3 separate regions of the Homo sapiens genome follow, and all the other regions are linked to region 3. The links come from fine-mapping of genetic effects on gene expression. A gene starts in region 3. Each other region holds a variant in brackets. All regions are shown on one strand. Distances are between the middles of the regions.

The links. PIP is the estimated chance that this variant, and not a neighbour inherited with it, causes the effect.
Region 1: its variant is fine-mapped to the expression of INCR1 in sun-exposed skin (GTEx, PIP 0.97).
Region 2: its variant is fine-mapped to the expression of INCR1 in whole blood (INTERVAL, PIP 0.93).

The regions. Positions count from the first base shown.
Region 1 is chr9:5,738,739-5,749,151 of GRCh38, forward strand. It overlaps RIC1 (RIC1 partner of RAB6A GEF complex), which reads left to right. Exons shown (of 26, transcript NM_020829.4): 9 at 4,131-4,275; 10 at 4,951-4,999; 11 at 7,193-7,345; 12 at 8,564-8,767. Among named protein-coding and RNA genes, the nearest start is that of ERMP1, 89 kb to the right of the region's middle. The variant G/A (reference allele first, on the strand shown) is at 3,857.
Region 2 is chr9:5,603,209-5,613,621 of GRCh38, forward strand. All of the region lies in intron 1 of INCR1 (interferon stimulated noncoding RNA 1), which reads right to left. Among named protein-coding and RNA genes, the nearest start is that of RIC1, 21 kb to the right of the region's middle. RefSeq lists an enhancer at 5,816-5,865. The variant T/A (reference allele first, on the strand shown) is at 5,885.
Region 3 is chr9:5,624,395-5,634,807 of GRCh38, forward strand. It overlaps INCR1 (interferon stimulated noncoding RNA 1), which reads right to left and starts at 5,333. Exons shown (of 3, transcript XR_007061406.1): 1 at 5,173-5,333. It overlaps RIC1 (RIC1 partner of RAB6A GEF complex), which reads left to right and starts at 4,713. Exons shown (of 26, transcript NM_020829.4): 1 at 4,713-5,059. The coding sequence starts at 4,916. RefSeq lists enhancers at 2,903-3,122, 5,033-5,533 and a silencer at 4,473-5,012.

The DNA of each region.
Region 1 (10,413 bases), 110 kb after region 3:
TCCATTTGACCTAGAAGTTTTCTGCTTGTATAAATTAAGTGGGAATGCAGTAGGCTTCCTATCAGTTTCACTTCCAGGAACACCATAATTAATTAGCCAATGCCCAAGTTCTACACAAGTCAGACTATTCTGATTGCTGCTTTGCTTCTGCTGTCCATTACAGTAGCTACGCCCACCTTACCTTTGATAGTTGAGTGCCGTCACTTGGCCCCTGCTACCTCCGGATCCAGTTATTCCCATTTTGTATTTAAATTTTGTAGTTGAGTGACTGAGGTTCCCACTGTTAGATCTGACATACAGAGAAGTGCAATTATAGGGTTCTTCAAAGATGTAGCTGCTGCCCTTGTAAATCTGTTTTGCAAGGCATCAGTCAAGGGTATATCTTCTGGACCCTCCCAGCTGGGATGAGTAGGTCTAAAGTGACTAATCCACTCCACCTTCTGAATCTCCCTAAGCCTTTGGATCCCTTCCTCTACATTAAACCAAGGGAGATCAGGCATTTCCAGCTCACTCACAGTGGGCCATCTTTTAATCCATATTTCAGCTAACCACGCAAATCAACTATTAGAACCTTTTTTAACTCCCCGAGCTGCAGCTTTAAATGCAGAATCCCTACTTAGTGGGCCCAAATCAATAAATTCAGCCTGATCCAACTCTGTGTACCTTCCATCATTATCCCACACCCTTAATATCCATTCCCATGCCTACTCTCCAGATTTCTATTTATGTAAATTAGAAAACTCAAGCAGTTCCCATAGTGCACCTCCTCATGGGTCATACTCTCAACCTCACCTCTAGAGGCCTGCCAGGACTTTATTGATAGGTCTAGAAGCAAACAGAGGTGTTGGGAGTGGCTCCTGAGGAGAATCAACATTATCTTGCCTGGCGACTGCCTCAGGGGAGGGCATCACTGTTGCCTCAGGCAGCACAGGGTTTATAATCCTCAGACAAAGGTGGAAGGGCTAATGGCAGCATGGGTCCAGGAGGGGATGTTGCCACTATTGGGGATGGGGAAAGCTGTTTCTTCTGGCAAAAAAAAAGGTTCACCAGAGTTTACAAACTCAGTGAATCTAGCTTCATCAGGGTCCTCCCACACATCCCCTTTCCAAGTTGCAGGGTCCCATTTTTTTCCAATCAGTGCCTTCACTTTAACAGTAGACACCTGGTGAGGCTGTGCATGCACCTTTTGTTGCAGATCAGCCACTCAAATGATAAGAGTTTGTCTCTGTGTTTCCACAATTTTAGCTCTTTCTCTATAGGAGATAAGACCCTCACTCAGGGCAATCTTAGCAGTTTTGAGGCTCAGTATCTGCTTCTGGGAGATGGAATCCCTGAGTTCATCATTTTCTTTCATCACCTTGTTCACTGAACTTAGGAGCAACCAACTAGCTTCATTATGTTCCTTGATTCTCCACATATGGTCAAAGGTGTTATGTATAGAGTCACTAAACTCCTTGCGTCTCACAAGCAATGAATCAGGAGTGCCAAATGCATTTATTTTGCATAACTCTATATAAACAGTTCACGTCAAGGACTGTCAGTGCGTACTATTAGAAATAGAGTCCTTAGCATTTTGGGGTCTAATGATATTAGGCAGCCAACTCTAGAAACCCCAAAACCAATGAAGGAACTCCATCCTTAATATTCTGTACCTCTAGAATCACTCCTGGTACCAATATCTGTATTAGTAAGGTTCTCTAGGGGACAGAACTAATAGAATAGATACATACATATTTATAAAGGGGAGTTTATTAAGTATTAATAAATGATCACATGATCACAAGGTCCCACAATAGGCCATCTGCAGGCTGAGGAGGAAGGAGAGCCAGTCCGAGTTCCAAAACTGAAGAACTTGGAGTCTGATGTTTGAGGGCAGGAAGCATCCAGCACACGAGATGTAGGCTGGGGGGCTAGGCCCGTCTCTATTTTCACATTTTTCTGCCTGCTTATATTCTAGCCGCACTGGCAGCTGATTAGATTGTGCCCACCCAGATTAAGGGTGGGTCTGCCTTTCCCAGCCCACTGACTCAAATGTTAATCTCCTTTGGCAGCACCCTCACAGACACACCCGGGATTAATACTTTGTATCCTTCAATTCAGTCAAGTTGACACTCAGTGTTAACCATCACAATTAGGATATTTAACTATTCATGTTGACTTAGTGTTACCCACATTTATACCAGTATTTTTGCCCACCATATCTTTGACCAACTCATACCTTCTTCTTGAGACCATTTTCTGCCTGAAAAACCTCCCATACATCCCTTGGAATTTCTTTTAATGAAGTTTTTTGAAGGTAAACTCTACTTTGGGAGAGTCTGAAATGTACTTATTTTGCTGCTGTGATTTAATTATAGTTTAACTTGGTGTGCTGTTTTGGATTGGCAGTTATTTTCTTTTTATACATTGAAGAATTTGTTCCAGTGCCATTGGATTTCCATTGCAGCTATTGAGAGGTCCTCTGTCAAGTTGTCTTCTCTTTTCAATAGATTGGTCTTTATAGCTACCTTTCAGATCTTGTCTTTGTTTTTGGCTTTCTGCAGTTCAACTGTGATGTGGAAGGGAAGAATTTTGTTTGTTTTTCAAATCCTGCTTGAGACTTAGGCTTGCTGGATGAAGATTTACATCTTTGAACTATTTCTGGAAAATTCTCAACCAGTATTTCTAAATATTCCTCTCCCCTAATCTATTTTCTGGAACTCAGATATACATTACACTTTTTTCCATGTTTCTTAACCTAACTTTAAATTTTTTAAAATTTTGTTTCTCTAGACTGCATTCTAGAAATTTTTTCTCCATCTAGGTTTGCTGATCCTCTCCAGTTATGCCTAATAATGTTGTTTGATCTGTCCATCAAGTTCTTAATTTCAGTTATTGTATTTTTTATTATTTAAAGGCTTATTTAGCTCTTTTTCCAATCTGTATGCATCCTGCTCCTTGTTTGAGTCTTCTCCTTTATTTTCATTGGCTATAAAAAGCAGTTATTTTATATTCTGTGTCTGTTAATCCCAAAATCTGAAGCCTTTCTGAGTCTGTTTCTGCCATGTCTTGATTCTTTGTGTTCTTGCTCGTTTGTGTGTGTATTTTAGGATTTTTGACTGAGAGCCGATTGTTTTCCTTGAAGCATATTTTTTGTGTGTGTAGCGCTTTGAGAACTGGATAACATTTGAGTTTTTCCAGAGAGGATTTAAATTTCTTTGCTTCCGCTGGTCACTTGGGAGCACTACATCAGTCTGTGACCCTTTGCATTGTATTCTCTGTTTGAACCACATTAAATTGCACAAATTACAAATCAGAGTGAGGGTTTGTGGCTTCAGATTATCAAGGGAGTATTATTTTCCATTCACTTCCACTGATGAAACATGAAAGTGTTCCTTGCTAATTCTTTTCCTACATGGCAGAGGCTTTTTTCTCATTCTCTCTTATACCATGGATATAGTCCATTGTAGTCCCAGCTTTACATGGGTATCTTTTGTTAGATTACCTGTCTTGGGCAAGCTCTGAGCTTTATCTCCTGTTCCTAACATGCTGTGAGTCATCAGAGGTAGAAGTAAAGGTCTCCAGGGTTTGGCAGAAAAATTCAGGGAACAAGCACTTTGTCTCAGTATTTTTTATTGTTTTGAGGATTTAAGTATTCTATTCACCATCTTAGTTTTTTCAGTGTGGAAGTCATTCAGGGTGTCATTTGCTGTACTTCCAGAAATAGAAATTTGCTCCTTACGTTTTTTTAATCATTCTTACTGTGTAGCTTTTTTTAAGGCCTGCATATGTTTTTTTCTAAAGACAGCTTTTACTGTAACCTTATCCTTGTTTTACAGAAACTGATTTATACAAAGCCAAAGACTTTTAAGATTAC[G/A]CAGTTATAAGTTAATCAAGCTAATAGTGACTAGAAACAGCTTTCACTTCTTACAAATCACCTGTGCACTGAGTTTGTTCTGCTTAGATCAGGACAAAACTAATGGCCTTACTAACTTTAAGTAGTCCTAAATGACCAGGATTTATTTTTGGAAGCAGTCATACCTTTCTACTCATTTAGATTTGAAAATACAGATTGTATTTGAAAAAAAAAAAAAAACAAGTATTTCTGAAGCAACTATTTATTTTTAACTCTTCTCACTATTTCCTAACAGACATTTGGAATAAAACAGGAGCTGTTAAATTGATGAGATGGTCTCCTGACAATAGTGTTGTAATAGTGACCTGGGAATACGGAGGCCTTTCTTTATGGAGTGTTTTTGGAGCACAGCTGATTTGTACACTTGGAGGAGATTTTGCGTAAGTCAAAAAAGACAATTTTTAGATAAAATAACTCCATTATTTCTCACAATGCATGCATACAAAAACCTTGTGTCAGAACTTCCCTTTTTGCCTTGACTCTTACCTTAAAACAATTTGCAAAGTTCATAATCTGTTCGAATATACTGATTCTCTGAACATTCATTTTTTAAAAAATGTACATCTCATTCCACAAAAATGTATTTATTTATTGAACCCCTGCTGTATATATGACAGCATGTTAGACACAAAGCAGAATCAGGCATGGTTCTGCTTTTAGGTAGTTTATAATCTAATGAGGGTGGTAAGGCATGTACATAAATAGTAGAAAGTTACGTTATCTCATTAGGTTAATGTAGGTTAGCCCAGTGATTGATAGGAGTAGGTTGGTATCTCTGCCCACTTCATATACTACCCTGAACCTCAGTTCTGATGAAATGAGCACACCTTTAAAAGCTGCATATCTCTGGCAAGAAGTCACTTGGACCTCGGAAAATGTGGCTGAGAGATATATACACCTAGGTGTATTAACCCACAGTTTTGTATTTCATGCATTATTATGTATTTCTATTTTAAAGGAGCAAAATCCGTTTGATTTTTTAAAAAACACTAAATTTTATGTGTATTATATGTAATTGGAAGGCTGTATTATATTTAGTTTCTGTTCTGTTTCAGTTATAGGTCTGATGGCACCAAAAAAGATCCCCTTAAGATCAACTCTATGGTAAGTACTTTCTATAAAAAATTGGCATGGTATTAAAAAAACTTGGATTTTTCTTCCCTTTTTTCACTCATTTTTATTTATTTAATTTTTTGAGACAGGGTCTTACACTGTCACCCAGGTTGGAGAGCAGTGGCAGATCATAGCTCACTGCAGCCTCTCTAAGCGATCCTCCTGCCTCAAGCTTCCAAGTAGCTGAGACTCTAGGCACACCACTATCCACACACGGTTAATTTTTTTGATTTTTAGTAGAGACGTGGTCTTGCCATGTTGCCCAGGCTGGCCCCCTTTTTTCACTCATGTTGATCTGATAAAATCACAAAACTATTTTAGTCTCAGCAGACTCTTCATTATACAGTTCTTGCTTGATGAAAGTCTTTTGTTTTTTTTTAATTGGAAGGCTGCCTGGTTTTCAGTATTTGCATTTTGTTTAGATGTGGCCAGCAAACCCCTGTCATCTTTATGATGATAATGACTGTTCAGATGAGGCCTTTTTTGTATGTGTCTTCTCATGGCCTGCTTGCTTTTAACATGAGGTGAAATGCTCATTGGGCATTTTTCCTGGAGGACATGCACTTGTGCATTACTTGAGGATATCTGTATCTATATATCTATATATATGTATACAGTACCTTGAGCATATTTTTTAAAATTTACATAGATGTATGTCAAAGAGAATTATGGTCACTGTTGTAAACAATACAGGTTGAGTACCCCTTAACCAAAGTGCTTGGAACCAGAAGTATTTCAGATTTTGGAACTTTTTGGATTTTGGAATATTTGCAAATACATTCTTGGGGATGGGACTCAAGTCTAAACACAGAATTCCCTTATGTTTTATATATACCTTATGCACATAGACTGAAGCTAATGTAATGAATTTGTAATAATTTTGTACATAAAACAAAATTTTGACTGCAGCTCATCACATGAAGTCAGGTGTGGGATTTTTTTACTGTGGTGTCATATCAGCCCTCAAAAAGTTGCAGCTATTGGAGCATTTCAGATTTTTGGATTAGGGAGGCTTAACCTGTATTTTTATTTTTTACCTATTTTCAAGAGTTTCTGTAGAAAACAGAGATATAAAACCCCTGTCTTTACATAACAAGTTTTTCTTGCTATAGCCCCTCTGCATACCATCCTTTTTAAATTAGTGACTATGAGGCTTGTCGCTTCTCTTCTCTCTTGCTCCACAGAGGAAGACATTCTTCTGATCTTGAGTTTCTTGTAGAATTAAAACCGCCATGGTTGCCTAAAATAGTGGTTCCCAAACTTTCACCACCAAGGACCCCTTCTGATGTCTTTGCCCACCTCCATAGTTTAAAATAAGTTTTCACCACACATTTCTATAAATACCAATCAGTGCTTCTGAATGGCATGCAAGAACCAGTGTTGTCCGTCTCACTAAGTTGATATTTTAACCACAAACTAAGAATCTAAGCATTATTAGTTAAAACTTAGGCAGCTTTATCATAGGAAAACATAAAAGTTCTATTAAACTTTTGAAATTTTGCAACAATTCATGGGCTACCCCTGCCCCTTCACCATTTTCTTGGCTTGAAGATTGAGAATCACTAATCTTTAAAAATACTATCATGGAGTCTAGTTACAGAATATTAAAACTGAATGGTTCTGGAGGAATTTATTTGAACCTTCTCATTTTACAGAGGAAGAAACTTATATCCCGAGAAACGAGACAGCTTGGCCAAGGTAATATATACAAAAAGCCAAGCTATAATGAAGACTCTAGTCTCACAGCTTCCAATCCAATGTTTTTTGCTCCATACAAAACTGCATCTGTTGTAGGGGCTTCTTTGCCAGGCTTCTACTGGGTAACCTGGGGTGTCTTCTGTAAGGAATTTCTTTGTATTTGAGAGGCAGCTAAATTAAAGCAATAGAGAAGTTACAGAGCACAGTAGGTATTTTTAGGATTAAGACCCTGAAATTGGCATTAAGAATGGTAGGTAATGTTTTCACTTTTGCAGATAGAGAGCAGTGATGGTGATTTCCTCTGGAGTTAGTTAAGAGGTAACTGAAGGTGTGATTCTTGTCTGTGTTATCACGGTTTCTCCAACCTTCACAAATCATTAATAATGCTATCATTGGCTATTTCAGAATTTGAATAATTGAAGCTAGAAAGGGATACAAAAGCCTTTTATTGCTCTGACTTTTTTTCTCCCTCCTCTTCTCTCTAAGAGCTGGGGTGCAGAAGGCTATCACCTATGGGTAATCAGCGGATTTGGTTCTCAAAACACTGAAATTGAGTCTGACCTCAGGAGTGTAGTTAAACAGCCCAGCATCCTGTTATTTCAGTTTATTAAGAGTGTACTCACTGTAAACCCTTGTATGGTAAGTATATTTAAAGCTCTGATTTTTTAGTGTCTTTTGTGTTAGAAGCTCAGACCCTTCTTTATGACATATGTATGGCGTATACTTCTAAAATTGGCATATTATCTTCTTTTCTATGATTCTTGTGTTTCTTTTTAATTTATATTAAATTTATACCAAAATTTTATTTCTCAACGGGTTGTGTTTCTTTGGTCTTATTTTTTTAAAAGGGTCATAAGCAATTTGACGGAAAGCAATGTTTATATATTTATTTAAATAATTTGAGTAATTTAGTCTTTATCTGAATAGCATTTCCCAAAGTGTGTTCCTCCAGGCACTACTTATGAGAGATATTAGTAGCAGTTCCACAGGATTTTTTAAAAGTTTTGTTTCCATATAAGTGTCAAATAAAGGTAAAACAAAATTGTAGAGATTGATTGTAGGGCTCCAGAGGCTTAAATATGCCATTGTGCATCATGAAAATCCAGGAGGTGGTATATTAAAAACAGTGTTCCCCATGCTTATTTAACTGTGAATTTTTAAGAAATAGCTTAAAGAAAGTATGTCTGAGGACTTGCTTTTAGAAACACCGCCCCAAACACTGCCTCTTGTATTTCTATCTGAAATAGTGTATACTAATATTATTATATATCGCTAATATACAGTAATGGTATATGTTACATGTTAGAAATGTGTATCTTAATACCTACCATCAATGGCTTTTTAATGGATATTTGGTACAACAAATTTCTAATTAAAATTTACGAACATCCATAAAAAATGTGAAAATAGCCTGAATTTCAGATCCATTATTCCACTTGAAGACTAAGGATCCCCAGAAAAGAAGAGAGCATTTCTCCCTCCCCTTCCCCATCCCAAATAATAATTTAAAAGCACCCTTGAGTTTTATGTCAAGCCAGCATTTGGACTAAAATGGAAAAATGACAAGGGTAGGGTGCTACTTTGTCTGATTTCAATAGTTAATGAGTCTACTCACCTTTGAGAACACTGGCTTTCTAGCTGAAATCTCATAGTCACTAAGAGCACTATTCTTTCTAATTATAACAGTGCATGAGATTATTGTGTAGTCTTTGTCCTCTGTGAAGAAAATCAACATCGAGATACATGTACATTTCCTATAATAAAACTAAATCGATGTGTTATTTTTGCCTGCGTAATATTGAGTTGTTTTTATTTGTTTTCCTCCTTTGCCCTTTTGTTCCTCTTTCCCTCATTTAGAGTAACCAAGAGCAGGTGTTGCTTCAGGGTGAGGATCGCTTGTACTTGAACTGTGGAGAGGCTTCACAAACCCAGAATCCCAGGAGTTCTTCAACACACTCTGAGCATAAGCCCAGTCGAGAAAAGAGCCCATTTGCAGATGGAGGTTTAGAGTCTCAGGGATTAAGCACTTTACTTGGACATCGGCATTGGCATGTTGTACAGGTAAATCTTTAGTTACTGATTACTAGAGACTTATTCTTTGATAGGATATCACCTGGAACAGATTATTAAATATTTCATCTGTTAACTTCAGGCAACTGAGAATCCTTTTAACCATTTTGTCATGTCCCTCTTCTGCTTTTCTGTGTTCTTGTCCTCTAGTCTTCTCCCTCCTTTCTTTCCACTTGGCGTAGAGTGTATCCCCACCTGTTTCAAGTCTATTAATAATGTCAAGAACTAGAAGTTTATGTTTTGCCTTCTCATTGAGAACTATTTATTTTACTTTCAGCCTCTTTTTTTGTATAAATTTAGCTCTACGGATTTGCACAGGCAAAACAAAGTGTAATAATCTCATGGAAAGTGGCAACATCAGCTAGTACTCTGTACAGCTGACCTTACAGTCTTAAGGGGCCACGTTGAGGTTAATCATGTGACTTTGGACCCAAATTGCAGACTTGTGATCAGTAGAGAGCTTTATTGTTAATACTTTTATTAGCTAATCTTATTCCAAATTATTTATTCATTCTGATATCACTTTTAAATTAACAGTGTCTCACAGTAATTCTGATAAACTGACATTTAACATGGAAATTAATTCTCAATTTTGATACCAAGTAAAATTATTTTGGGGAAACCAGTAAGTTGAAGTTTCTTAAAAGAAACTTGCATACATAATTTCAGTCTTCCGACTGTTTTCTTTCCCTTTTTGATAGCAAAATATTTTAGGTACATCAAAGCCCACTCTTAGTTTCTTTTAGTCAGTTTCTGTTTCCATAATTCTTTGCCTTACTTTGACTCTCTATATGTTTACCCTACTAGCCTACTTCAGCTCCCATGTTATTTTCAGTTGACTTTGAGTGAAGATAATGAGAGACAAAAAAATGGTCATGTGAAAGGTTGAAGGATTATCTCCTACATTGACATCTGGTATACACTAAAAGAAAATGAACTTAACTTACATTAATAAATTCATAGAATCAAACAATGTACATACCATTTTATAATTAGTAACAATTTTTAAATAAAACTGCACTAGCTACTTCCTTGACTAAAATTTTCCACTGCTCCCTTCTCTCCTATAGCCATTTCTCTGCTATTTTCATTTCCCCATACTTTGAACTATTCATTCTACACTGACCTAGCATCAATGCCAGTTCTGCCTAGCCAGGTCTGTGTTACCAGAGAGCCAAGTAGAGCAGAGGATCAAAGAAGGTAGGTCTGGAACTAAAAAATCGATCAGGCAATAACAAAAATTGAATTTCCTTCCAGCTCAAAAACTCAGTGATTCTGTGATTCTTAAGCATCTATGAAGTACCCCATATAAGAGAAACATTTTAACACTGATTTTAGGACTTTGGGTACTAGCAAGATTCCACTGTTATTCTGTTCTTTAGATAGCTAAAGATATTTAGACAGATGAACTTTTAAAACTTGAGTTTACCTAGTTTATCAGTTTCCTTAAAAATAACATAAATAATGCCACATTGATTGTTTTGTACTGCTGAAACAATGAAAATGGGCTCATAGAATTTTTCAAGCTGGAAGGACCTAAGAGATCATAAAGTCCAACTGGATTTGATACATGAGGAAACTGAGGATCAGAGAAGTTATATGACTTGTCCAGTTCACCCAGCAGAGTAGTGGCAGAC
Region 2 (10,413 bases), 21 kb before region 3:
CAATATGTGAGCTTACTAGAGAACGGCTATGACTGAAATGGACTCTACATCTTTTCATTTGGACTTACATGCAATTTCAATGTCTTTTGCTAGCAGATGAATGTGAATTCATTGCAGTGGATTTTTTATTCAGATACAGAATATTCGGTGCAATTTTTCTAAGTCACTATAGTCAATTTTCAGATAACAAAAAGTCCAATAACTTCTAAAATAGAAGAGAGAAAAATGGAAAAAGAAAACAAACTTACAAACAAAAGCCCAACCCCAATCAACTGAGTAGAGAGCAATAAAGGAAAAGGGGGAAAGCCAAATAAAAGTTGGACAAATAAAAATTAAAAGTGTGGTGGTAGAAAATGTCTAGATATATTAATAATTATAATAAATATAAATCTAAACTTTATAGTAAAAGACAGATTGGGGAACAAACAAACAAAAAACCTCTAACTACATGCTCTTTCAAAAGAAAAACCTAAAACTTAAGACACAAAATGGTTGAAAGATGTAGCAGGAAAACAGTAACCAAAAAAACAGAAGTGTATATTAAAAATCACACAAAATAGACTGATGAAAATAGGTATCGTTAGAGTTAGAGAGGGACCACTACTTGATTTTTATAAACGTTCCAATTGTCAGTGATATAATAACTTCAAAGTTTTACACCTAGAAAAATTGTTTCAAATATATAAAGCAAATATTTACTGAACTACAAAGAGAAATTGCCAATGAGAGCTTTCAATATATCTCTCTCAATTACCAACAGACCACCCAAAGCAAAGATATTAAAAATATGGAAGATCTGAACAACACAATTAATAACAATCAAATAGATAAAAATTCTGCATCCAACAGTTGGCAAATGCACTTATTTTTCTTAAATATCATAGTGCAATTACAAAAATTGTCCATTTATTAGACCATATGGCAAGTCTCACAAAATTATAACACAGTCCTCATTCTCTGTGCGCAAAGTAATTAAGTTAGAGGCAATAACAAAAGATAAATCTATAAAAGTTCTTATATATTGAAAAATGTGGAAACACACTTGTAGGTAATTCATGTGTCAAAGAAAAAATTATGGAAGAAATGTAAAAATCCTAAAAGCCGAATGATAATGAAAATATCACCTACCATGTTCTGTAAAACAGTCAAAGTCATTCTCTAAGGACAATTTATTAATTTGAAAGCTTGTTTCAGACAAGAAGAAAGGTTAAAAATTAATGAGCTTTGTGTTCAACTCAAGAAATTAGGAGGAAAAATAGAAAAACAATCAAAGTAGGAGGAAATAGATAACAGAGATAAAAACAGAGGTTCAGAAAAAAGTAAACAAAGCTACAAAAAAAGAATCCACAAAATTAAAAGTTTTATTTTATAAACAGAACAATCTCTGCTGAGATTGAGCGAGGAAAAAAAAAGAAGGCACAAATAAGCAATATTAGAATAAAAAGGGACCTAATCACAGACAAGGCAAAGATTTTTTTAGATGAGCTACTCTGAATCAATTTAGGCCACATATTCAAAAACTTAGGTGAAATGGGCAAATTCCTAGAAAACTATAATTTACCAAAACTTACTCAAAAACAGAGAACCTGAATTGTTTTGTATCTACCAAAGAAATGCAATCAATATTTTTAAATCTTCCCACAAAGAAAATATTTAGTTCAGATATGTTTACAAATTACTTACACCTAGGTTTCAAGAACGAGATCATTCCAATCTTTAAAAATGTCCTATAAAACAGAAAAAGAGGGACTATGACACAATTCACTCAATGATATTAACGTAACCTTGATAGCAAAACCAAAGAAGGACAGGACAATAAAGAAACCTTTTGAACCAATCTCACTCATAAACATAGCTACAAATTCAAATTAAATACTAATGAAACAAGCTTAGGAGTTTATTTCAAATAGATAATACATCATAAACAAGTTGAGTTTAACCAGAAATGCAAGCGCAGTTAAACATTAGGAAATAAAAAATATGGCTAGGCATGGTGGCTCACACCTGTAGCCCCAGTGCCTTGAGAGGCCAAGGTGGGTGAATTACTTGAGCCCAAGAGTTAGAGACCAACCGGGGCAACATGGTAAAACCCCGTCTCTACCAAAAAAAATACAAAAATTAGCCAGGCTTGGTAGCACATGCCTGTAGTCCCAGCTACTTGGGAGGCTGAGGTGAGAGAATCACTTGAGCCTGGAAGTGAAGGTTACAGTGAGCCAAGATGGCACCACTGCCCTCCAGCCTGGGCAACAGAGCAAGACCCTGTCTCAAAATAATAATAATAATAATAATAAAGAAAAGAAAATATAAAAATATAATTCATTGGCCAGGCACAGTGGCTCATGCCTGAAATCCCAGCACTTTGGGAGGCCAAGGCAGGTAAATCACCTGAGGTCAGGAGTTTGAGACCAGCCTGACCAACATGGTGAAACCCTTTCTCTGCTAAAAATACAAAAATTAGCCAGGTGTGGTGGCACACACCTGTAATCCCAGCTACTCGGGAGGCTGAGGCACGAGAATCGCTTGAATCCAGGAGGCAGAGTTTGCAGCGAGCTGAGATCGCACCATTGCACTCCAGCCTAGGCAGCAAGAGTGAAACACCATCTCAAAAACCAAACAAACAAACAAACAAACAAAAATATATATATATATGTAAAATTTACCGCATTAACAGACTACAGGGGAAAAATATGATAATCTCAAAAGATGCAGCAGATAATGAGCAGACTTATTAAAATCAGGAACAAGACTTAGAAGTCCTATTTACTTCTACTCAACATTATAGTGGATTTTCTAAGTGCATTAAGACAAGAAAAAGCAGCAACAAGTACAAAGATTGGGAACAGCAATAAAAGGTAGGAGTATTGGAATATACTTCATTCATAAGGATATAATTCTCTAAACAGAAAGTCCCACAAAATCTACAGGCAAATTCTTGGTAATAATAACAGAGCTGGCCAGGTGTGTGGCTCACGCCTGTAATCCCAGCACTTTGGGAGGTCGAGGAGGGCAGATCACCTGAAGTCAGGAGTTCCAGACCAACCTGATCAACATGGAGAAACCCCATCTCTACTAAAAATACAAAATTAGCCAGGCGTGGCAGCACTCGCCTGTAATTCTAGCTACTCAGGAGGCTGAGACAGAAGAATCGCTTGAACCCGGGAGGCAGGGGTTGCGGTGAGCCAAGATCATGCCATTGCACTTCCAGCCTGAGCAACAAGAGCAAAACTCTGTCTCAAAAATAAATAATAATTTAACAATAACAGAGCTAACCAACATGGCTGAATAGAAGACCAATACGCACAACCAAATATATTTCTAAGCATTGGCAACAAACAGAAAATTTAAAAAGTATAAAAGCAGTTTACCATATGATATGGTTTGGCTATGTCCCCACCCAAATCTCATCTTGAACTGTAACTCCCATCATTTCCACATGTCTTGGGAGGGACTCGGTGGGAGGTAATTGAATCACGGGGTTGGGTCTTTTCTGTGCTGTTCTTATGAGAGTAAATATCACGAGATCTGATGGTTTTATAAGGGGGAATTCCTCTACACAAGCTTTCCTTACCTGCTGCCATGTAAGACATGACTTTGCTCCTCCTTTGCCTTCTGCCATGATTGTGAGGCCTCCCGAGCCACGTGGAACTGTGAGTCTATGAAACCTCTTGTTCTTTATCAATTACCCAGTCTCTGGTATGTCTTTATTAGCAGCATAAAAGACTAATACACCATAACAACAAAAAAGTATAAATTACATCTAATGAAGTTATAGGAGACCTATATGGAATAAATTCTAAAACTCTATTTGATAAACATCAGAGAAGATCTACTATAGAAATAAATAAAAGACGACATTCAAAACGAAGACTTTCTATTGTGAAGTTACCAGTTTTTCCCAATTTGACCTACAGATTCAGTGTAATTTGATGCCAAATCACACTTTTTTTCCCAAGAAACTAAGAAGCTGATTCTAAAATTCCTATGGATGAACAAAGGTCAAAAATATAACAAAGACTCTTTTGGAGAAGAACAAGGTAGGAGGTATGCTTTATCCTGTTTGAGGACTTTGATTACAAAGTTAATTAAGAGAGTGGTATTAACGCTGCAATACACAAATGGGTTAATGGTATAGTAGAGACTTGGGAAACAGAGCCACACATATTTGGACATCATATATAACAGAGGTGGTATTGTATATAATCAAGAAAGGGAGAATTAGTCAATAAGTGGTGCTGGGAGAATATGGGGAAAAATGAAACTGGATTCCTACCCAACATGATACGTAAGTCAATTCTAGATGCATGCAAGACTTGGATGTGAAAGCTGATATTTTAAACATCTATAGGATAATATCTTTAGTTTCCTGGGGTAAAGAAAACACATACAAAACAAAAACAGGCTTGTCTGAAACTGAGAACACAAAACACCCCAAAAAACTTATCTAAAACTGAAGAGATTAACAAATTTGACTTTCTATTTTTCAAAATACTCCAAACAAGAATTTGTAGACAAGCGACAAGCCAGTAGTAGATATTTGCTATATATAACTAGTGGTACGCCCATACATGTTTTAAAAACCTAGCTTTGCAGAGATGAAAAAAGCCATGATTTGTTGGGTTTGATTCTTTTCAAGGTGGAAAAGTTTATTTCAAGCCACCAACATGATGTTGCTAAACATGAAGTTAGGAAGACATACACAAAATCTCTCAGACGAGTCTACACAAGCCAGCTCCAGTACACCACTGCATATAACACTAAAGGATTTGTTTCCAGAATGCATGAAGAACTCTTTCTATTTATCAATAATTAAATGACAAACAATGCCACAAAAAAGGGAGGCATGAATAGTCATTTTGCAAAAGAGGAAATATGAATGAAGAAAAAATACATGAAAAGATTCTCTACTTCACAGTGATCATATAAATGTAAATTAAGATTATAATGAGTAAACATATTATACTCTCCTGATGAACTAAAGTTAAGTATTACTGCTGGGTGCAGTGGTGGATGTCTGTAGTCCCAGTTACTTAGGAGGCTGAAGTAGGAGAATCACTTGAGCCCAGGAGTTTGACTCTAACCTGAGCAACATAGTGAGACCCTGTCTCTAAAAAACATTTAAAAAGAAATATTACTATATTAATTTTTCCCAAAGACAGATCAACGGGAACTCTTAAACAATGCTGGTGTGAACATAAATTGGCACAACCACCCTGGAATAGGATTTGGCATTATCTTACAAAGTTAAGTACTGTACATTCTACAATCCAGCAATATGTAAGCTCAGGTATATATTGTAGAGGAATGCTTGCACAAGTGCACCAGAAAATATGAACATGAATATGCACAGTAGCACTTTTTGTTAAAAACATAACAACCCAAATGTAATCAGTCAAGGTTTGTTCATAGAAGTAGAACTACTAAGATAAATTGACAAAACGGATTTAGAGACTTGACTGTATGCAATTGTGGAAGCTGGTTATACTCTCTAGGGGAGGCTGTTGTTTCTGTGTCTAGTGCTGGAGCTGAAGTTCACAGGACCAGTGGTCAGGAGGTAGAGAGCAGGAAGCGAGGACAAACTGGAATCCATGAGGATGGACTGGAATCTGCATTGGTCTCTCACCACCTCCAAACCTCTGGTGGAGGAGGAGTTAAACACACCTCTGACCCAAGAGTTAGAGAAGCTGAAGCATAAGATCCACAGGAGCTGGAGGAGCTATGGACCCTGCACCTACCTCCTGAGTGTTAGGAAATACAGCTAATTTCTTCACTTTCACTTTCCACATCAGGCAGAAAATGTCTCTCCAGGTTCATCTAGTCTATTTTCATATGAGAAGTTTAAGAGGCCCAGAGAAGTGAAGTGACTTGTTACCTAGAAGCCTGTTTT[T/A]AAAAAAAAAAAAAGTCTTATGCATCTGAAACTCTTCGTAAGAGAGTGCACGTCAGTATTTTTGATCTAGGTACAGGCTGTCCGAGGGATATTCTTGACTCATGTTCTTTTGCCAGTTGCCTCTGATTATATCACATAAGAGGGCTTAGGCAGCTTTGCAATAATAGTTCTACTAATTATTCTCCAAAGGAAATTCCTCATTCCACTGCAAATAGATGTGATCTTAAGACTGATTTCCCCCAGAATCACTACAATATACTCTTATCTAAATTTGAGCACAGCATCTAAATATTCATTTTATTTAAATGTGAATTGCTGCATTCGAGCTAAGGCCGAGTTCTCCATACGAGATCCAAATTTGGTACCAATTTGGTAACCATAATCCATGGTTACTCTGTGACTACTAATCTGGGGGAAAAAGAAAACACTCTTTGGCAGAAGAGGATAAGTACATTCCTAATTTTCATTTCCAGATTCTTAGCCACTCATCCAGGATGAATGTTAAAACCATTATCAAAACATAGCCTTAGAAATAAAATTGTTAGGGAGATAATAATAACTCTTTGTCAATGAATTTATTTTGAGCAATAATAATACAACAAAGTTCCAGTACTGCGAAAAAGTTTGGCTAATCTCAAGAACATTATAGCATATGCAACTTGAAGTAATTTCTTTATCTAAAAATATTGGGCCAAAAGAAACTAATTAGAGTTTAATGTAATTTTATATTAAGTGTCTTGCTGTGGTTTTAAGATTTTCAGTAATATACTTTATTTTAAATCATCTCAGTGATTTAAAAGAGTAACACTTTTAAATGATAAAAAAATTTTAATCATTTATCATTTTAAATGATAAAAATAAATTTTGAGTGGGAAACCCTTTTCATAAAGAAAAAAGAAAAAAAGAAATTTTTATCATTTTTAGTTTCACAAAATAACAAATTGGAAGGTAATAATGTAAATTTGTAAGCTTTTCGCTGCAAAAAACTGTCATAAAAATCTTTAGATGGTGTGTTTCATTACTGACTTTAAAATAAAATTTAATATAAAAATATAATTCATAGCTAACTTTTTCTGAAATGTGTTTCTTTTTTTACAAAGTGAGATGTATCAGTACTTCTTTCGTTTCTATGCAATAATATTGTCACTCTCCCTTTTCTTTTTTATTAACTGATTTGGACTCTATTTCTAAGATAGCGTATAACAAAATGCCCCCAAAACCCACAACTCACAATTTTATGGATACTCTACCTATTGGGATATATTCCAATATGGTTATCATGTAGAAACCTCAAAAGAGAAAGGCTAACTTCCTCCTGTAAAGGAGTGATCATTACCACCACCAATCAATTGAACAAAGCCACTTCCACACAGTCAATAAGCTGCTTTGACTTTTTCTTGTTCTCACTTTTCTGGGTCTAGACTTGGGGAGTTAAAGTGTTAAGGTCTATGTACTTTGGCCATGGGTAACTGCCACAAATTGGGTTCTCAGTGAAGCACAGTCTGGACAGAGATTGGGGTGAAGGAATTTTATTAGGGAGTGTTCTTGGGATCAAACCAGTCCACTGCCTGGTCTTAGGACAATAGTAAAGAGGGGAATAGCGCCCTCCCCCACAGGCCAAGGGAAGACAAAATTAGCAGGATGTAAGATCTAGCTATTCTTCCCCATGTGGAGATTCTCCTTCCAGTGAACTTTGGAGAACCGTTTATTTTTATTAAGAAAGGCAACATTTTTTGACATGTACAAAGCACTTTCCTATATTTTTATTTTTTAATTTTTGATTTCCATAGGTTTTTGGGGAACAGGTGGTGTCTGGTTACATGAGTAAGTTCTTTAGTGGTGATTTGTGAGACTTTGGTGCATCCATCTCCTGAGCAGTATACGCTGAACCCAATTTGTAGTCTTTTATCTCTCACCCCCTTCCCACTCTTCCTCTGAGTCCCCAAAGTCCATTGTGTCATTCTTACGCCTTTGCATCCCCATAGCTTATCTCCCACTTATGAGTGAGAACATATGATGTTTGGTTTTCCAAGGGAAGGCAATATTTTTATTAGGGGTCTATAAATATTAGTGGCTGTTTTTTAAAATTTGGTATTTCAACTGTAGTCTTCATGATCAGTGATTTAGAAAAATACCATATTGTACTGAAATAAATTTGCTATATATTTATTTCAGATTCTATATTAAAAATTGAAAAATTAGTGTTTTCTGCTGTTTGGAAAATACAGTAAATTTTCTTCTCTAAGTTTTCTTTTGCTAGAGTTTTTATGTGATGTCACGGGCCTCTCCATGCCCTTTGCATTCTCTTCCAAAAATCTGTTCTTGCTGTCAGTTAAGTGGAAATGGTTAGCAACGAAGCAAAATCAAAGTGGACCCACCCAGCTTTTATATCCTGCATGGCTGAGCTTTAATGAAAGTTTGAGTTTTTCCAAAAGTCTGGTCTCTACTGACTGGGAATGAAAAACATTTGGAAAAAAATGCCTTGAGCATGTGAACCATGTAATTTCATTTGAACTAAGGAATTCCAAAAATACTTTGCTTATTGGAAGGGCAGTTATATTGCTGCATTAGAACTTGATATTGAGAAGGATAAGTACTAGTTCTTTTCTCCCTTTTTCTCATAAACATTAAAAAACTTAGACTGAGTGGCTGGGTAGGAAAATAGTGTAAAGAGGCTAAGTTGGACCACCAGGTGGGCTTGCTCTAGAACCTATTCCTTCCTTAGGAGATCCATCTACTCTTCCGGGTTCCATAGAGCCCCACGCAGCTTGAAGCAACCCACTCTGCACTGATGACAATGCAGGGCTTCATCTGGCCATATCTTGATGACTACTTGAACTGAGGCCCAGTCCTTTAGTCAGTTCTGCTCACCGACACCAGTGTAAATGCTATGCCAGTAGCAAAACTGGAATTGCTGGGTCCCTGCTGGGCAATCTGGCCAGAGAACAAAGTAGGTCCTGTTCAGTTTTATGTCTCCATGAGGGGATCAGGTGTTAATATTATTAACTAGCATTTTTGGGAATATGTACTATGTGCTAGTCACAATACTGGATACTTTTACATGGATTACATTATTCAATCTCCGTAACAATCCTCTATGGAATTTTGAAGCTTAGAAAGGTTAAGAAATCAGGTTTTGAAACCAATCAGTCTGACTCCAAAGCCTTTGATCTTCTTTCCTATTTTGTAATCCCTGGCTTTTAATCATGGGTCTTAGTGTACTAGATTGGGATCACAGATAGCAGTGTGGCAGATACAGTTGGTGCCCTGCCCATGTCTCCTGAGCCTTACCAAGTGCCAGCAGCTGGACCATCTTGCTTAATGGCCTTCTCTGGTGGCTGGAGCTCCATATGTGAGCATAGGTTTGAGGAGATGTAATGCCTTAAGTGCAGCCTTTAACTAATGATTGATAGGAGTTGGGGTATGAATACTTCAGCTCCTTTGCTACTCTGGTAGAGTAACTCAGAGGCATGAATTTTACACTGGTACCCAAAATTCTCCAGAGGGATTAAGTCCATTACCCACAGTACTAACCCACTTGAAAACATGCCCTTTTTATTGATTGCCTTCCCTCTTTGTCTCACTTCCCTTGCCCATATTTCCTGAGATCACTACCCAAGTAAGCTACTTGTGTACATATTAATGCCTTAGGATCTGGCTTCTGGGGGAACCAAAACTAAGACAAAGAGCAAAGAAACGGTGGACCTATGAAGAAGGAGGACCCAGTTGGAGTGGATGGGGCAATGCTGGAAGGAAAGCATGGGGTTGCAGTCTCTAGGAAGAAGCCTCTGATGATGGTTTCCTGTTCTTGAAGCTGACAGTGTCATTGTGAGACAGGAGACAAAGGTTTTGGGGGATTATTGAATATTGACACACTGGATGGTTCTTTGATTGCTTGATTGAATGGAATTTCTTTCAGAAGTTCTCTCTTGGTCTGTTCTTTTCAAATGTATTCTATATTTACCCAAGTTTAATAAGAAGAGATTCCAGAAAATGCAACCATTAATAACTGGAATAATGAAAGAAAATGCTAACACGTTAAAAACAGAACATTGAGTAAATGGTCATAAGTAAATGAAAGACAAATGTATATATATAATTTTGGAGGATGTATAATTTACTCATATGGCCTGAATGTGGTAATACTATGTATCATATTTCATGCAAACATAAACTGAATGAGGCTTTTTTTTTTTTTAAGACAAAGTCTCCCTCTGTCACTTAGGCTGGAGTGCAGTGGGGTGATCTCGGCTCACTGCAACCTCCGTCTCCCAGGTTCAAGCAATTCTCCTGCCTCAGCCTCCCAGGTAGCTGGGACTACAGGCGCGCACCACCATGCCTGGCTATTTTTTGTATTTTTAGTAGAGACGGGGTTTCACCATATTGGCCAGGCTGGTCTCAAACTCTTGACCTCGTGATCCACCCACCTCGACCTCCCAAAATGCTGAGATTACAGGCATGAGCCACTGCGCCCGGTCAATGAGGCTCTTTTATACCACTTTTACTACACTTATAGGATCATTTCTCAA
Region 3 (10,413 bases):
GGATTAAGGCATGAGGCACTGCGTCTGGTTTAAGGGAATGTTGTAGCTTGCTTGATCTCCTACCCAGACCATTAAAACTTTCTCCAGGTCAGCAACAAGGCTGTTTTGTTTTATCATTCCTATGTTCTCCAAAGTGGTACTTTTACTTTCCTTTAAGAACTTTTTTTCCTTTGCATTCATAACTTGGCTAACTGGTACAAGAGGCCTAGCTTTTGGCCTATCTTTGCTTTCAATATGCCTTCCTCACTTAGTTTAATCATTTCTAGCTTTTTACTTAAAGTGAGAGACGGGGATTCTTTCTTTCACTTGAACACTTAGAGGCTACTGTTGGGTTACTAACAGGCCTAATTTCAATATTGTTGCATCTCAGGGGATAGGGAGGCCCAAAGAAAGGGAGAGAGACAGAGGAACTGCCAGTTGATGGAACAGTCAGAACACACATAACATTTATCGCTTAAGTTCTCCATCTTACATGGATGTGGTACATGACACCCCAAAACAATTACAATAGTTACAACAAAGACCACTGACCACAAATCATCATAACAGATATACTAATAATGAAAAAGTTTCAAATATTGAAAGAATTACCAAAATGTGATAAGAGCCATGAAGTGAGCATATGCTATTAGAAAAAATGGTGCCAATAGACTCACTCAACACAGGGTTACCACAAACCTTATATTAAAAAAAAAAATTGCACCAAATCATACTTCCATCAAGAGAGTATAAATGTATCCCCATTTCTTATGTGTACTCTTACCAACATTATTTCTAGTAATTTAAAAAGTTTATAAGTTTCATAGATGAAAACATGCACCTAGTAACTTTTTTTTTTTTTTTTGAGACAGGATTTCATTCCTTTCACTCAGGTGGGAGTGCAATAGCATGATCTTGGCTCACTATTACCTCTGCCTCCCAGGCTCAAGCAATTCTCCTGCCTTAGCCGCCTAAGGGGCTGGGACCACAGGTGTATGCCACAGTGCCGACTGATTTTTTGTAGAGACAGGGTTTCACCATGTTGCCCAGGCTGGTCTCAAACTCCCGGGCTCAAGTGATCCGCCCACCTCTGCCTCCGAAAGTGCTGGGATTACAGGCGTGATTACCCTGCCCGGCCCCCTACTAACTTTTATCATAAGCTTAATCTTAGAACAGAGTCCAAAAATTTTGACAGGAGTGGTGGTGGAAACTAGTAGAAAAAGGAGGAGAAGACCTAAGGCATGAGAACTGTCAGTATATTTTACAAAATAAAGTTAAAATATGATATTTGAAAGTTGAAGCCAGGCACGGCGGTTCACACCTGTTATCCCAGCACTTTGGGAGGCCGAGGCTGGTGGATCATTTGAGGCTAGGAGTTGGAGACTAGCCTGGCACATGATGAAACCCCATCTCTACTAAAAATACAAAAACTAGACAGGCGTGGTGGTGCATGCCTGTAGTCCCAGCTACTCAGGAGGCTGAGGCACAAGAATCACTTGAACCCGGGAGGCGGAGGTTGCAGTGAGCCAAGATTGCACCACTGCACTCCAGCCTGGGTGACAAAGCAATGCTCTGTCTCAAAAAAAAAAAAAAAAAGAAAGAAAGAAAAAGAAATGATGTTGAAAAATCCAGCCAATAACATTTTTGTCACAATAGGGGAACTCTCAAGTATAGGGTTTTGGAGAGTCAGATATTTCCTTTTCTCCCCGCCAGGGAGAAAGACCTAGAGGTTTCCCCCACTCCCTCTCACTGTCCAGAGCAATTACCACAATTTAGTTCAGCCTAAAGAGCATATGCTGTTGGAAAAACAGCAACAATAGACTTACTTGATGCAGGGATGCCATAAGCCTTAATTTTTTTTTTTTTTTTTGAGACAAAGTCTCACTCTGTTACCCAGCCTGGAGTGCAGTGGAGCGATCTCGGCTCACCGCAACCTCTGCCTCCCAGGTTCAAGCAATTCTCCTGCCTTATCCTCCAGAGTAGCTGGGATGACAGGTGCATATCACCATGCCTGGCTAATTTTTGTATTTTTTTTTTTTTAGCAGAAAGACAGGGTTTCACCATATTGGCCAGGCTGGTCTCAAACTCCCGACCTCATGATCCGCCTGCCTTGGCTTCCCAAAGTTTTGGGATTACAGGCATGAGCCACCGCGCCCAGCCAAACCTTAAATTTTTAAAAAAATCACACAGGAGGCTGGGTGCGGTGGCTCACGCCTGTAATCCCAGCACTTTGGGAGGCCGAGGTGAGCGGATCACCTGAGGTCGGGAGTTCCAGATCAGCCTGACCAACATGGAGAAACCTCGTCTCTACTAAAAATACAAAATTAGCCAGGCATGTTGGTGCATGCCTGTAATCCCAACTACTCCAGAGGCTGAGGCAGGAGAATTGCTTGAACCCAGGAGGTGGAGGCTGCAGTGAGCTGAGATGGCACCATTGCACGCCAGCCTGGGCAACAAGAGCGAAACTCCACCTCAAAAAAAAAAAAAAAGAAAGAAATCACACTGGATCTGTAGAAAGAACATCAGTTCTTTTCAGGCCATGTGAATTCAGGCACATCTACCACACCTGTCCTGTTTCCTCACTTGAGAAAGTGAGAATAACAACATCACACCAATGTCACTCACCTTGAATGTTTACTATGAATTAAATCAAGACAAGCATTTGGAATTATTTTGTGAATCTTAAGTGCTACACAGGAGTGTGGCAGAGGAATAAGCTTCTAAAGTCAGCAAGTAAGGTTAAAATTGAGTGCAATAAAAATTGCTTAGAAGTTCCTTAAATTGCCCATGAGCACAGTATGACAAACTTGAGACACATGAGAACAAAGACTCTCTGAGAGACAGCTGGGACAAACATTCAGTAACACTGCCAGCAAAATTGCTGCACTAGAACATTTTCATTTCCTCTTTCTGCCAAGTGCATAACTGAATCTAAGATGAAAGTATGATGCAACTTTGTTATTCTACAATTTGAAATTGGCAAGTTAAGAAACCTCTCTGGGCCTCTTTGTCTAATGGTGTAGCTCAGCTGGATCAGGGTTTCCTCCACGGTTTGTCTGACAAATACTGCCAGCTTACTATGCTTACTATGTTCCAGGCTGCTGTGTTGGACTGGGGGAGGGTAGACGCCAAGGAGACAATCTGATCGCAACAGGCTGGTGAGTGGTGAGGCAGTTTCAACCTCCATTTGAGGAATACAGGATTCTATCATCACCTTCCAGGGAATGCAGTGAATGTTTAGAAAAATTACAGAAAGTTACATATTTGGTTATGAATACCAGCTACAATGCTATATCTAATATGAATTAAGTTTCTTTGTTTCCTTTTTTCTGTTTATGTTGCTACTTTTTTTTTTTTTTTTGAGACAGTCTCACTCTGTTGCCCAGGCTGGAGTGCAGTGGAGGGATCTTGGTTTGCTGCAACTTCCGCCTCCCAGGTTCAAGCGATTCTCCTGCCTTAGCCTCCTGAGGAACTGGGATTACAGGCACCTGCCACCACGCCCAGCTAATTTTTGTATTTTCAGTAAGACGGGGGTTTCACGATGTTGGCCAGGCTGGTCTCGAACTGCTTACCTAAAGTGATCTGCCCGCCTCGGCCTCCCAAAATGCTGGGATTACAGGCGTGAGCCCCAGCACCCCGCCTACGTTGCTACTTTTTAATGTGGGGTCATTTTTTAAACCTGGCTTTTTAATTGAAAAAGTAATACAAACATATGGAAAAATTCAAACTGTACTAAAAAAGGTAGACAATGAGAAGCAAATCTTTCTTCTATTTCAGACTCCTCCTTCCCCCATTCCACACCATATCCCCTCAACCCTCCTTCTATTCAGACGTTACCACTGGGTCAATCCGTTGAAAGTTACAGCTAAGGTGATACCTGGGGTCCAAAAGCTAAATATGGACCTACGCTATCACCAGTCCCTTCCAGTTCTAAAACTAAGTCCAAGCCTTTTGCAGCACGAAAGAGATAGCCTCCTCTCATCTAAAGTTATGGCTGGTAAGGCTGAGACGAATGGAAATGGATTTCAAAGACATAGATTTAGAACTCCTGAAAGGCAGGAGACAGAACTCAATACTTTCATGGTGAGTGGTTTATTTACTGATTAAATAAACGCTCCCTTAGGGATGTAAGCTCCACACCGGCAGGAGCTTCATCACCAGCTCTCACTGCAGACCCCGGCATTAAAGGAGCTCACACGGTAAAAGCCCCTACCGCCCACCACAGCCACAGCGGCCGGCAGCCCAAAGTGGGAAACCGCGCCGGCCGTCACGTGACTCCAGCTCCCCCCGGCAACCGGCCCGCCCCCACCGAGACCCCGCCAATCCGGAAGGGAGGTCCAATTTGGCCAGGCCAGGGCGTGTTCCACCGGCCCAGTAGCCTTGCTGCTGCGTTATCCCTAGACTCGCCCCACTTGCCTCGGAGTCTCAGGCCGTTGCCTAGGTCCTCCCGGTAAAACCCTGGAGACTGCTAGGGAGAGGAGCAAGGGAGGGGCCAGCGCGCAGAAGTGCGGACGCAACCCGGCGGCCGCGGGCGAGGCTTATGCAGAGCTTCAAGAAACAGCTAGGGAGACCGCAGGAGTCTCCAGAGCGCGCGCGCGGGCCCTCCCCGGCCCGACCCACGCGGCGCGGCGTGGTGACGCCCGCGCGGCCTGAGGAAGGGGCGGGGTCGGGGCGGGCCTCCGCGCTCCTCCCGCCCTCTCTGTGTCCCTACTCTCCCTCCCCTTCCCTCCCCCACACTCGGCCCCGTCAGCTTGGGGGTGCCTTCGTCGCGCAGCCTTGCGTCGGCCCGGCCCGGCCAGGCCAGCGGGCAGATGCCCCGAGCTGCCGCCGCCGCCGCCGCCGACTCGGCCGGTGGCGGTGTGGGAGGTGGGCGACCAGCCCGGGGCCGCTGAGTGTGACGGACGCAACTGGGGGCGCCGGGGGCTCCGCACGGACCATGTATTTTCTGAGCGGCTGGCCCAAGAGGCTGCTGTGCCCTCTGGGGAGCCCGGCCGAGGCGCCTTTCCACGTTCAGTCCGACCCGCAGAGGGCTTTCTTCGCCGTGCTGGCCGCGGCCCGCCTCAGCATCTGGTACAGCCGAGTAAGTAGAGCCGCCCGCCGCCTTTCGCCGCTGCCTCCCCGGCCTCCCGGCGCCGTCCCACCCCCAACTTCCACCCAGAGCCTAGGACTCCTGCCCCTTCGTGCCAGACCCACCTGCCTTCGCAGTCCGCGTCCTCGTTCCACCGAATTGGCCGCAGGTACCCGCCGGCTGCAGGCACGTCCTCCAGCCGGCGGTCCGGGGTGGATGAAGTCGCTGCTGCCGAAAATCCCTGAGCCTCCCCGCGTTGGACCGACGGCCGCGGCGTGCAGACTCCGCACGCTCCCCGGCCGAGCCCAGACTTGTTCTTCTCTCCCTTCCCCCATTCCCCGAGGGACAAATTTGTTTAAACTTTCCACAATTAGAAATCCGGCCGCTGTGGTGCCCCAACCCTCCCTTACTTTAAAGGTCGCCGTTTTGGAGTTAGGGAAAGCCTCTTGGGCTTTACCCAGCGCCAGACTTTACAGGCCTGTAATAACTTATTTCTACAAACTACAGCCTGAATTCTTTATTCTTCACTAAAGGTCTGGTTATTTAACTCCCCTCTTTAACCCCAACATCCCTTCCCCACTTTCGAGTTGGTCTTTTTCTTTGCTGCTGCTCTTGGACTCTTCGGAATAGGGGGTTAAAGGAGCGGAAGTAGAACTCAAATCTGTCCGCGGAACTCCCAGTTATAACACCTGGAAATAATAAGGCTTGGGAGGAGCATGGAACTGAATTCTGTTTTTGCTTTAAGTCCTGGTTATCTTTTTCTTTCTTGTATTGAATTACTGAGTAGATATGAGAAAGAAATAAGTGGTGGATGGGATACTCCCTACTCTCTGCAAACACTGCTATAACTTTGTCTATGAGAACGACAGAGTTCAGAGTATAAAAATGCTTTTTTTCCTCCCCAAAGAAGGCAGTACCAATCGATGTCAGAGTGAAGTTTTTCTCCTTTCCAAGTTAATTTGACCATGTGGGGATAGGTTGTGATCTTGTCCTTATTAGGTGTTCGTGAAATACTGGTTTTAGTTTGTTAAAATCCCCAAATCTTTGTGTGTTGCTGTTCCATTACCTGTAATGCCCTTGACAGTCCTCACCCACTTCCCTGGTAATACTGGTGATGGGATTTAGTGACGGGTAATTCTGGTGTCTCCTTTGACTGTCATAGTTGGGCTGTAAATCAGACTATTTGCCATCAAGTTTTGGCTGATCTAATTTTCAAATGCAAATCAGAACAAAACAAACTTATAAAATCGTAATACCAACAATATGACTATTTTGTCTAGTGCCTGATTGTATTTTGAATATATATGTATGTATGTGTGTGTGTATATATATAAACATATGTGTAAATATATATAAAGTATCATCTGGTTCCTAAATGAGATATTCGTTTACAATGTATATGCCAGTTGAATAATTTTTAATTTGTTTAGGTGTATATAACTCAACTTTAAAGCACATGCAGAAAAAAATAGAACTTGAATTTAAATTGTCTTTTGAATTTAATACATAATTCCTTTTGAATGTAACAAATTTAGACTTTCGTCTAAAATTTAACTTTTCTTACCTTTAAAAAGGCAGACCTAACTTAATTTTAAATAAAAGTAAACAATATGACCTATGAATTGACCAGAAGCCTGTAAACCACTTTATTCCCCCATAAGAGAAGCATAAACATATGCTTTAATTTAGGGACATTGTGAATATTCTTAAGCATGTCTATTGTTTGGTTTTGGAGTTACATACGACATCTAGAAATCCAAGGCAGTTCTGGAATTTAAACTATTCATACTCTTCTTTCAAATTCCCACCTCACATGCAACTTCCTTTTTCCACAGAAGTCCAGGGACCCCTACTATTAAGTTCTGTTGTGCAAAAGTTAGGCTGTAGGGAACCCATGGGTTTAGAGGTCTGGAGTGAAATGAAATGCAGGAATACCTTAGAGGAGGCTGTATAGTACTGTAGTATGAGTGGTTAACCTTGGTCTCTGGGCACCAGCTTTGTTGTCACTGAAAAAAATCAGATATTCACGAGGTCAAGAGATCGAGACCATCCTGGCCAACATGGTGAAATCCCGTCTCTACTAAAAATACAAAAAAATAGCTGGGCGTGGTGGTGCACGCCTATAGCCCCAGCTACTCGGGAGGCTGAGGCAGGAGAATCGCTTGAACCCAAGAGGCAGAGGTTGCAGTGAGCCAAGATCCCACCACTGCACTCCAGCCTGGCGACAGAGCAAGACTCTGTCTCAAAAAAAAAAAAAAAAAAAAATCAAATATTGAACCAAGTGATTATAAGGTGTATGATTACATGCCTAGGTGAGTGGGATACATATGCTAGACTCCAGCTTCCAATCTTCTCTTCCTGGGATATGCCCTTTCTTACTCTGTATGAAAGTTTTCATTTTGATTTTCTAATTTGTAAACTTCCTGAAAGTATGTAAGTTAATTAGGTTAACAAACTTCATTTAAAAGTGAAAATGCCTTTAGGTAAATTAAAGGGCTATCAGTTATACTTCCATAATTTAGAGTGAATTGGTTTAAAAAGTTCTCATGGAGCTGCTAAAAGCTTTGATTTTTGAGAGGCTGTAGATACAAGTAGTTTTATAATAATATGTGAAGATCTACAGGATTTTACAGAGTTGAAGTCTTACAGCTGCTTGAGGGCATTTGAAGGCAGGGAGACATGCTCGTAGAGATGATAAAACAAGATTTGCTTACCTGAAATTTTGTTAGGGCTCACTTAGTAAATCAGGCTCTCTTAGGAGTGATATATTTTAAAAAGAGACAACTAGCCTTGTGGAAGGGACAGTCGTTTAGTAGTCTAAGCTGGTTGTTTCAATGTTCAAAAGAATTGTGGAAATTGTATGTGTACAGTGATAATTCATAAGACTGAATCTCTATTAAAATCTCTAACTGTACATTATATGGGTCTTCTAATGAACTTTTATGTACTACTTATACCTACTGTCCTCTATTCTAAGTAGGTATTCGGAATTCCACTGTTTAGACTCATATCTCTTCAGAATTATTTCCTACCCCAAATTTGAGAAATACAGTATAGTGTTGTTTATGAACAAAAGAGCCTCTAGATAGTTACTTAGCTTTTTTATATTGGAGCCCCAATATTATATTTTGGAGCCCCCCAAATGGTGTTAAAAAAAGGCTCAGTATGTGTAGGCTAGATTGGGGTGGTAGAGGTAGAACTTGACTGGGGGCAGTTGGTACATTTCTGCTAAGGTTATTGTAAAAGGACTAGTTTCAGCTTTGAGGATGAAACTGTTGCATAAGGTAGGTTATGATTTATGATTGACGTAGGTGTAGTGTGAGATGAATTACATTTTGTACTGTACTGAGGGCCCAGAATTATTCCTTTAATATACTAACTGTGACTATGAAAGTCTATATATGTGAACATCAGAATGGTATCTTTGAATTTAGCCATTCTAAATTAGATGTATAGACATTCTCGTTTTTCAGGTCACCGACTTTAAACATTTAAATTAGCTTCAGAAGTATTTTTGAACATCAACTGTAAAAGACAGATGTGTATAAAAGGGATGAAGAGACATGTTATATGTTAGTGTGTTAGATGTTAGTGTGTTAATATAAATCTTGTGAGATATCACTGTTGTAGGTAGCTAATAAAAAGCTGAAATGGGCAAATAATTACTAGGCTTATAAAATAAATTATATGTCGTTTAGTAATCCTGAGCAAAAACTTAGTTCCCATTGGTATGTGCTAATCATGGAAAAAAACAATGATATGTCAAAAGAACCAAGCTTTGGATCAGGTATGTGATTAACTGTGTTGACCTCAGGAAGACCATTTTATTTGTATTTTCCCAGCATTCCCATTTCTCACCCTTTTAACTCTATTACTTTCTCCAGAGAGCCTTCTTTATAAATTCACTGCTCTGAAGTCTTCTAGGGTTCACTGTTGATGAAAGAATGGAGTTCAAACTCCTTAGTTTGATATCACAGACACTCCCTTCTTGGAATGCTCTCTTGCCTCATTTCTGCCTGTCAGAGTATTATCTATCCTTTAACTGCTGTTGAAATCCTTTCTTTATGAGTCATTCTTTACCTACCGTAACCATAAGTGTTCATTTTTCTGATGAACTACTGCTTCCCCACTACTGCCAGCTTTGTTGAGGTATAATTGACAAATAAAAATTGTATATATTTAAGGTGTGCTGTGCGATACTTAGATCTACCCTGTGAGTTGATAATCACAATCAGTCTAATTAACAGATCCACCATCTCACACAGCTCCCTCTTTTTTTGTATGTGGGATGAGAACACTTAAGACCTACTCTCTTAGCAAATTTCAAGTATACAATATATGTTAATTATGGAAATAAATGTCATTATTAACGATAGTTACTGGGCCATGCATTAGGTCCCCAGAACGTATTCATCTTATACCTGAAAATTTGTACCTTTGACTGAAATACTCCCATTTCACCCACCTCCCAGCCCCTGGTAATCATCGTTCTATTCTCTGTTCCTATGAATTTGACGTCTTTATATTCCATATATGAGATCATGAAGTTGTTTTTTGTCTTGCTTACTTAGTATACTGTCCTTAAGTTTTGTCCATGTTGTTGCAGATGGCAGGATTTCCTTGTTTTTTAAAGGCTGAATAATATTTTATGTGTGTATGTGTGTGTGTTACATTTTCTTTATCCATTCATCTATTGACAGACACTTAGGTTGTTTCTGTATCTTGGCTACTTTGAATAATGCTGCAATGAATATGAAAGTGCAGATATCTCTTTGAGATACTGATTTCAATTCCTTTGGATATATACCTAGAAGTAGGATTGTTGGATCATGTGGTAGTCCTGTTTTTAGTTTGAGGAACTTCTGTTTTCCATCATGACTGTACCATTTTGCAGTCCCGTCAATAGTGTACAGGGAGGGGATCCCTTTTCTCCACGTCTTTGCCGACCTTGTTATGATTTAACTTCTTGATAATAGATATCCTAACAGGTGTGAGGTATCTTATGGTTTTGATTTGCATCTCCCTGATGATTAGTGTATTGAGCACCTATTGGCCATTGGCTGTTTTTTGGTAAAACATCTGTTCAGATCTCTTGTCCATTTTTAAATTAGGTTATCTGTTTTGTTTTTTTCTCGGTACTGAGTTGTATGAGTTCCTTACATATCTTGAATATTAGCCCCCTTTTAGATGTATGGTTTGCAGATATTTTCTCCTATTCCATAGGTTGCTTTTTTATCTTGTTGATTGTTTTCTTTACTGTACAATAACTTAATTTCATGTAATCCTACTTGTTTATTTTTGCTTTTGTCACCTGTGCTTTCCATGTCATCCAAAATACCATCGTGAAAACAGATGTCAGGGTGTTT